Homo sapiens: one gene and its partner. The protein of the gene in region 2 purifies or fractionates together with the protein of the main gene of each other region. This does not show direct contact. Each region holds a gene or a part of one and is shown on either strand. Other genes may lie near its edges. The genes, in order: ZDHHC11 and DHRS7B.

Region 1 (3,807 bases), on a different chromosome or scaffold from region 2:
CTTCTTGCAAACGTGATTGCCTTTAATCCCCACAAGGAACAAGGAGGTTGTGAGGAGGGGGAACCAGCCCTTTTCACGAGTGGGGAAAGTGAGGTCAGAGATGCGGTGCGACTCGCCCAAGCCTACCAGCGGAGCATGAGGGTCACACGGCGTCTCCAGTGTCACAGCTCTGGGGCCTCTGCCCGCACCTCCCGACTCCACCTGATGCAGACAGGCCTCCCTACCAGCCAAGGAGCACGCGGGCTCGGTCCACTCGGGGGGCCCTGAGCATGGTCTGTGCTGGGGTCTCCATGGCACCATGCTGGGCAAAGGCACTGAAGCCAGGGAAGGGGAGAGCCACGAGAGTGCCGTGGCACCCAGGAGGGCCTGCAGGCTCAGGGACCTGGATCTCTGCACCCAAAGGGAACTCGGGCTGAGGAGGCCCTGGAGGAGCCCGGCCACACCTCGGCTGCAGTCCCCCCTTCTCCAAGGGTCTCGTGCAAATCTGAGCCAAAAGCGATGTCCATGCTGTAGACGTGAGACCAAATCCACTCCCAGTCTCTCGTCTTTGCTCAAAAGATGCAGAGAATAATCCATCCACAAAAACCAATTCTGGGCAGCAGTTCCTGGAACATACTTTGACTAAACCATCTTCCCTTGGTCTTTCTGCCATGATGATATTTTTTTAAAAGTATCCTTTAACCTCCTTTAATCCTTTCCATTGTATTATGTTCACCTAAGCTTGTTTAAATCCCTTTTTCTATTTTCAACTGGAGGCCAGAGCATGAATGCCGCAGTCCTCCGAAGAGGCAGTTAGGGCACAGCTGCCTTCCCCGCGCTCCTCCTCCCTCCAAGAGTCTTCTGGATAATCCAGGGGTGACGGGTGGCTCCAGGCATGAGCGGCTCCCTGACTGCTGCTCCCTCATACTGCCTTCCCTCTCACAGCTTAGGTTTCCCAAGCAGCAGCCCCTCCAGGCAGCGGACACGCCCTACCCTGCCCCCAGTCCTCCTGGGCTTGAGCCCACTTGTGGGGAGTAAAGACCCCTCATCTTCATCCTACTGTCTGGACAGGACTCCCCTCTTCATCCAGGAAAGAAGGCGGGTCTCTAAGACCACAGAGACAAAAGCCCACAGGATGGGGCAGAGCCATTCACGCGGGGCCTCCTCTCCCCGCAGCCACCCAGGGACATTCTCCTCTTGGTTAGCACAGCCTCCTGCCCCTGCTGCCTGTGTTTAACCTGCAGAGTCCGAGGCCAGCGCTCACAGTCTTCCCAGGACACCAGCGCCGCCTGCCTTCTTTCCGTCCCCCTTCCTCTCTTATCACTACGAAGTATGCAGCCTCCCTCACAGGGGCTCTGCCATCAGCTGGGCCTCCCCATGGGGGCTCCGCCATCAGCTCGGCCTCCCTCGCGGGGGCTCTGCCATCAGCTCCTCAACTTTCCTCATCTTGCTCTCAATGCCGTTGCTCTCTCCGCCTCTGGCGGATGAAGGGACAGAAGCGAGGTTGGCACAGATGCCGGCGTTGGCTGCTGCCTGGAGCTGAGGGCGCCCATGACCCCGGCCCTGCTCTCCTGATGCCCCTTTCCCACACCCAGGCGGTGTCTACACTTGGCACCCACGTGGTCCCTCTCCAGCACCCCTCCTGAGGAAGGCAGACCCTCTCCTTGCCACCTGCCTGTGGGCCCTCACCCCCTCACCTTCCCCACCAGGACCCGCCAGATTGAGCCAGCTCGAGGCACCAGAGCAGAATGAGTCCAGAAGGAAGTGGCACCTGGGGCTAGCATGAGCCAGAGGAGCTGGCCCCACCTTGGCCATCGTGGAGCTGCTCTTCTCCAGGGGAGGAGGCCGGTGGGTCTCCCCGGCCCCTACCATCTCACGCAGCCTCTGGACTCGCTGTGCGGTCATGCAACCTCTCTGTCCCTGCCGGGCTGCTCAGCCTCTCTGGACACATGCTGTGCTCCAGACGGGATGGCAGGGAGGCAGGGCAGGGACCGCCCGGTGCGTCCTGTGACACCAGGCAACGTTGGTCCCCACTCCCACGCACACCAAGGCCTCTTTCAGGTCAGCACAGAGTAGCTGGGGAGCAGGCGTGGTTCTTTTCCCTGGTGATCTTCACAATACAGTGCTGCAGACAGCCGGGGCTCAGCACACGGGGCCTTGAGAGTCCCTGGATCCTCCACTGTGCTCAGGGGAAACACCTCTCATCTATGAGCCTCCACCGTGCTCAGGGGAAACAACCTCTCGTTCTTGAGCCTCCACCGTGCTCAGGGGAAACACGTCTCATCTGTGAGTCTCCACCGTGCTCAGGGGAAACACCTCTCGTTCTTGCACCTCCACCATCCTCAGTGGAAACACCTCTCATCCTTGCGCCTCCACCGTGCTCAGGGGAAATACCTCTCGCCTGTGAGCCTCCACCATGCTCAGGGGAAACACCTCTCGTCCTTGAGCCTCCACCATGCTCAGGGGAAACACCTCTCGTTCTTGAGCCTCCACCGTGCTCAGGGGAAACACCTCTCGTCTATGAGCCTCCACCGTGCTCAGGGGAAACACGTCTCATCTGTGAGCCTCCACCGTGCTCAGGGGAAACACCTCTCGTTCTTGCACCTCCACCATCCTCAGTGGAAACACCTCTCATCCTTGCGCCTCCACCGTGCTCAGGGGAAAGACCTCTCGCCTGTGAGCCTCCACCATGCTCAGTGGAAACACCTCTCATCTGTAAGCCTCCACCGTGCTCAGGGAAACATCTCTCTTCCTTGCATCTCCACCGTGCTCAGGGGAAACACCTCTCGTCTATGAGCCTCCACCGTGCTCAGGGAAACACCTCTCATCTGTGAGCCTCGACCATGCTCAGGGGAAACACCTCTCGCCCATCTGCGCTGGGTGCCCACTGCCCTTCCGTGGCCCCACCCTTGTGCTGGATGAGCCTCAGCCTGGGTGGAGAGAAGGCAGCCCAGCCCAGGACAGCGTGGTCAGGAGGCCTCAGCCAGCGTGGCCCCGCAAGTGCCCCCGGGGGGCCTCCAGGGACTTACTCTATGCGGATGAGCTTGTCCAGGGACGGCTGCACCACAGCCCCAGAGCCAGACAGGAGGCCGGGGCACGCAGGCACCAAGCGCCACCACATCAGGACAGGGACGCGGCCCCAAGAGGACCCTCCACCCTTTCAACACGATGACCCCTGCCCACAGACCCCTCCCTTCCAAATTCCCCCAAGCCTGGCCCGTGCCGGCCATCCCCTCTGTGCCCCTCACCAATAATTCCGGCTTCCCACGCAGTTGTTGATCCATTTGCAGTGGTGGTCGAAGCCGGACACACACTTATTGCAGGAAATGCAGTGTTTGGTTTTCTTGTTCCTGGAGGGATGAATCGGGGAACGCCTGTCAGGCCCCAAGTGCGCAGGTTGGGGCAGGGCCAGAGGTCCATCACTGGAAGCCAGGTGCCTCGGAGGAACCAGCCCTGTGCGGCCTGGGGAGAGGGCGTCCAGCAGGGAATGGGAGGCTGGGGGAGGGTGTTGAGGCCTGTGGGGAGGAGGAGAAGCAGGGCAGCTGTGGGCAGAGGTAGCCACAGAGCAGGAGGAGCTGTGTCTTTGGCCGCCCTGAGCATAGACCCCCCGCCAGCCGTCCTACACCAGCCTCACTCTGGGCCATGGCCCTGGAGGAGGCCGCGCCTGCCCCATGGTTCCAGGAGTTGAGGCCGGGGGCTTGGATCCCACCTGTGCCTACAGGGCCTCCCTTGCAGCTGACAACAGCCCTGTAGCCAACCCCTAGGCCATCACAGAGGCCTCCAGGGCCCCTGGAGACACTGGAACCCTTACCTCCCACTTTCCTAGGG
Region 2 (3,807 bases):
AGATGAGGTTTCGCCATGTTGCCCAGGCTGCTCTAGAACTCCTGAACTCAAGCGATCCTCCTGCCTGGGCCTCCAAAAGTGCTGGGATTACAGGCATGAGCCACTGCACCTGGCCACATGCTGGTTTAAAGAGGCACTCCTGTCCTCACCTGAGGCATAGTCTCCCTTAAGTGCTCACCAGCAGATCTGCACAGGATACCTTGGCCCCTGGCTGACCCTGACCTGACACCAGTGAGCCACTGACTTGGTTCCAGACCGAATCTTAGAGGCCCAGGTGATTAGGTGGCACCCTAGCTCCTGGTTCATGAAAGGGAATGGCCTTTGCAGGCTAATTCCATCTCTGGTAGCCATGTGGTGATGGGCCAATACTGCAGGGTCAGAGGATCAGGGCTGCCATCTCCTCAGCTGGGAAGGAAAGGTCAGAGGGGCAGGCGGTGTGTACTGGTCTGAACAGGCCTGCCCTTAGAGAAGTGTCAAACTTCCTTAAAGCTAGATGGGTTCAAAACATGGGAGGAGAAGAAACTCCTTCAGCACCAGGGGTCCTGAGAGGTCTGAGGGAAGGCTCCCTGACGTCTGTCTCATGGTGTGAAGCCTCCGTGTGCTCCACAGCTTCTTGTTCAGCTCCCCACACAGCATTTGCTCATCCCCCAGGCGCCTCTCCATACACCCGACAGTCTTCGGGAAAGAGGTGCTAAGTAGACTCAATCTAGACACACTATCTTCTTTGAAGGAGGTGAGGTTGGTGTGTTCGTTGGCTCATCCCAACAAAGGGCAAAAGCCCGGAGAGAGCACCCACCCTGGGTAGTGAGGCCTGGTCCCAGCGCCCCAACCCTGCCTCCCTGGTGCGCTTCTCAGCAGAGCAGCAGAGCCCCCACAGGAATGAGGGGGGTGATGGCTGCACTCCAAGCCAGATGCCAGCATTCCTGAGGCTAGAACTGCTCATCCGGTTTATAAATCATTCCCAAAGGCTAGGAACCTTGGGCCCTGCTGGCTTCCTCACCCCATTTTGTCTTGTCCTGACCAATACATAGGACATTTGTGAGGTGCCACCAAAGGGTGCAGACACAGAACCCTTCAAAGGTGGGAGTCCCGCTGGAGTCTAAACAGCTTTGGGGAGATGACTGCCTCAAACCTGTTTGAGTTTTGCTTCCTAGCAAAGCTAAAAAGAGAGGAAATGAAAGTTTGTGTAGGGAGTGACAGAAATGAAAACAACAGATTGGAAGGATTCCATTTTCATTTATTGAAAAGCTGATATTGGAAGGTAGGAGGGTCCAAGGAAAACAACTCCAAGGTACGATATATGAAGGGCTGCAGATGACTGTCCAGTGCCGCTGGCACGCCTGGCTGGAAATCAACAGAGCTGTGCACAGCCCTGTGGCTAAAGCTGGAGGAAGGAGATATCCAGAACGTTCTGTTCCTTTAGTCAGTGGTCCCACACTATTCTACAAGGACAAGCTCAAGAGGCTTAAGTACACAAAACAAGAGACAAGATAGGAGAAACACGGAAAACTGAAGACTCGTTGCATAACTCCAAACCTTCCGGGTGGCTGACACGGCAGGCAGAGCCACTGAGGACAACATAGCTCTGCCTCCTCACAGAAGCAAGGCAACATCAGAACGTCCTTGGTGGCATCAACAGTGGCTGTACTTGACATGGCCAGTTAAGAACCTGCCCTACTTTATCTGGATGGAGGGACTCTTGTTCCCAAAAAGTTAAATGGGGCAGAATATAAGCAGTGACTGGAATCCAGGAAGGGCCTGACATCTTATGATACATAGACAGGTCTGGTGACCTCCGTGACATTTTCTGTTCCCTTCATAGTCTTGGTGTCAGGAGAGGAGATGCAGAATGAAGATGACAGCATGCTTCTCAAACATGCATGGATGGGAGCACTTGCGACTCAGAGCTCCACCTCTGCCAGCCCTCAAATGCTCTTCAAGGACTTTCACAAAATGCTTCTCTTTGAGCTCAAGAGAAGTGGCTGCTGACCACCCTATATATAGTAACTGAGTAAGGTCAGAGGACTGACGATGGCAAAGGGCCTGCAGACAGCTGTCCCTGCAAAGGTCTGGATATCCAATGACAGATATGGTGTTCACCCCTGGAGACCTCACCTAACATCCACAGTGGTGCACAAATGAATCCATACTCCCTAAAGCTTTCCCAGGCCACCCCTGGCCAACTGCAAGCCACTTCCACCACAAAGACCCACCTGCCTCTCTGTGTTCATGCAACACCCAACTGTATAAGTCCCTACAGGACCGTGCTTCTCCCCTACCTCTGGGCCTGTCTGGAATGTTCTGTCTACTAGCCCACCTATTCCTTCTACCTGGCCATCTCCCCTGCTGAAGCTTTGAGACTGTGAGTTCTAGAGACAGAGATGTGGGTTTGACTCTAGGTTTTGTACCTTCTGGCTGGAAGTCCTAGTCATTCCTTCTCTGAATCTTAGCTGTGAGAAGTCAGTGAGATCATGCATGTAAAAGTGCTTAGCACAAGTCAGCACATATACATGTGCCTTGTTGCCACCAGGCTGGTTTGAGAGCATATGTTACTGCAATGGCAATATATTGAGATAAGTCCTTGCCTTTCTCCTTACAACAGACGACCGTGACCTCCTTGAAGGAAGGGACCCTGTCTTTCATCTGTTTGTTCTAGAACCTGACCCAGAGCCTCCCACTTTAGCAGGTGCTCCATCAGCTCCAGCTGAGCTATCACCAACCAGAAGATGTAGCAGCGGGTGGGGTCACCACAATTCAGGGAACTCCTCAGCTTTCTTCCATGGAACTCAGAGTAAGCGTGGATGGCAGATGGTATGGTGTGTGCATGTGCAACGTGCCAAGTCAATATACGTGTGTGGCAGGAAAACAATGGAGCCCTGTAACTCAGAGGCTTCCAGAAATGGGAGAAGGGGGAACCCAGGTTTTGACACTCCAGGCCAGGGTCCCGGTACACCATTCCTGAGACTTAGAAGCTCATGGTGTTCACTGGGTTGGAATGGACCTAGATTGGAGACCCTGGAACAGCTGAGGCACCATTTATCTGTCTTTGACCTTGTCTAGACCATGCTGAGGGGACAGCTGGGGGCCTGGCCTGGGATGGCAAGGCCCAGAGAAAGCATGCACCAAAGCTGTGAACCAGAGGCCCCGGCTGAATCTAGGAAAGGACATGTTTCATTTGGTCCTCATAGAGGTAAAAACACGTTTTAAGTTAGCTGTCCATATTTGGAAATTGGGATATTTCACATAAAATTCCTACCTCAGCAAGCAACTGAGGCTGAGCAGGGCTGCCCTGTGAGGGGCAGGTATCCCATCCCACCCCACCCCACCCCACCCCCGGGGCCAGGCTGCTTCTCTCACACTTGCCTCCCACCCTGACGCTGAGTCATTTCTCACTGTGCCTTGGCTCCTGCTTTTTCCACTTGTACCAAGGACAGTGCCATCCGGCCCACTTCCCTTATCTGGCCTTCTGCTGCCGCTTCGGGCATTTGCGCTGGTGGTCCCTGTGCAGCTGGGCCGCTCCTCATCCCTGGCTGACTTACCCCCGCCCCCTGGCAGCACTGCCTCCAGGACCCACCTTTGCCCAGCCCTGAGGTGGCGCCTGTGATCACCACCACAGCATTCCGCAGGTAGGCCTTCCCGCGCACCCACTGCAGCAGCCGGAAGAGGCCGAAGACGCCCAGGCAGCCGAACAGCAGGGGCAGGATGGCTGTGGAGGTGATGAAGTCCATGGCCTTCACCTTCGGCAGACTCTTCCTGGAAGAACCAAAACCAAACACACCAGTGACAAAGTAGCAGAGTTCAGGGGAC

What was found.
Region 1: the proteins of DHRS7B (region 2) and ZDHHC11 purify together in Homo sapiens (co-immunoprecipitation; one large-scale study listed by IntAct). This does not show direct contact.

What each region holds. Positions count from the first base shown.
Region 1 is NC_000005.10:844,287-848,093, forward strand, and holds part of ZDHHC11 (palmitoyltransferase ZDHHC11), read right to left. Parts: intron 3,495-3,807; coding exon of another isoform or gene 3,330-3,494; coding exon 3,228-3,329; intron 1-3,227. UniProt on the Homo sapiens protein: Endoplasmic reticulum-localized palmitoyltransferase that could catalyze the addition of palmitate onto various protein substrates and be involved in a variety of cellular processes.
Region 2 is NC_000017.11:21,171,964-21,175,770, reverse strand, and holds part of DHRS7B (dehydrogenase/reductase SDR family member 7B), read right to left. Parts: intron 3,754-3,807; coding exon 3,575-3,753; intron 1-3,574.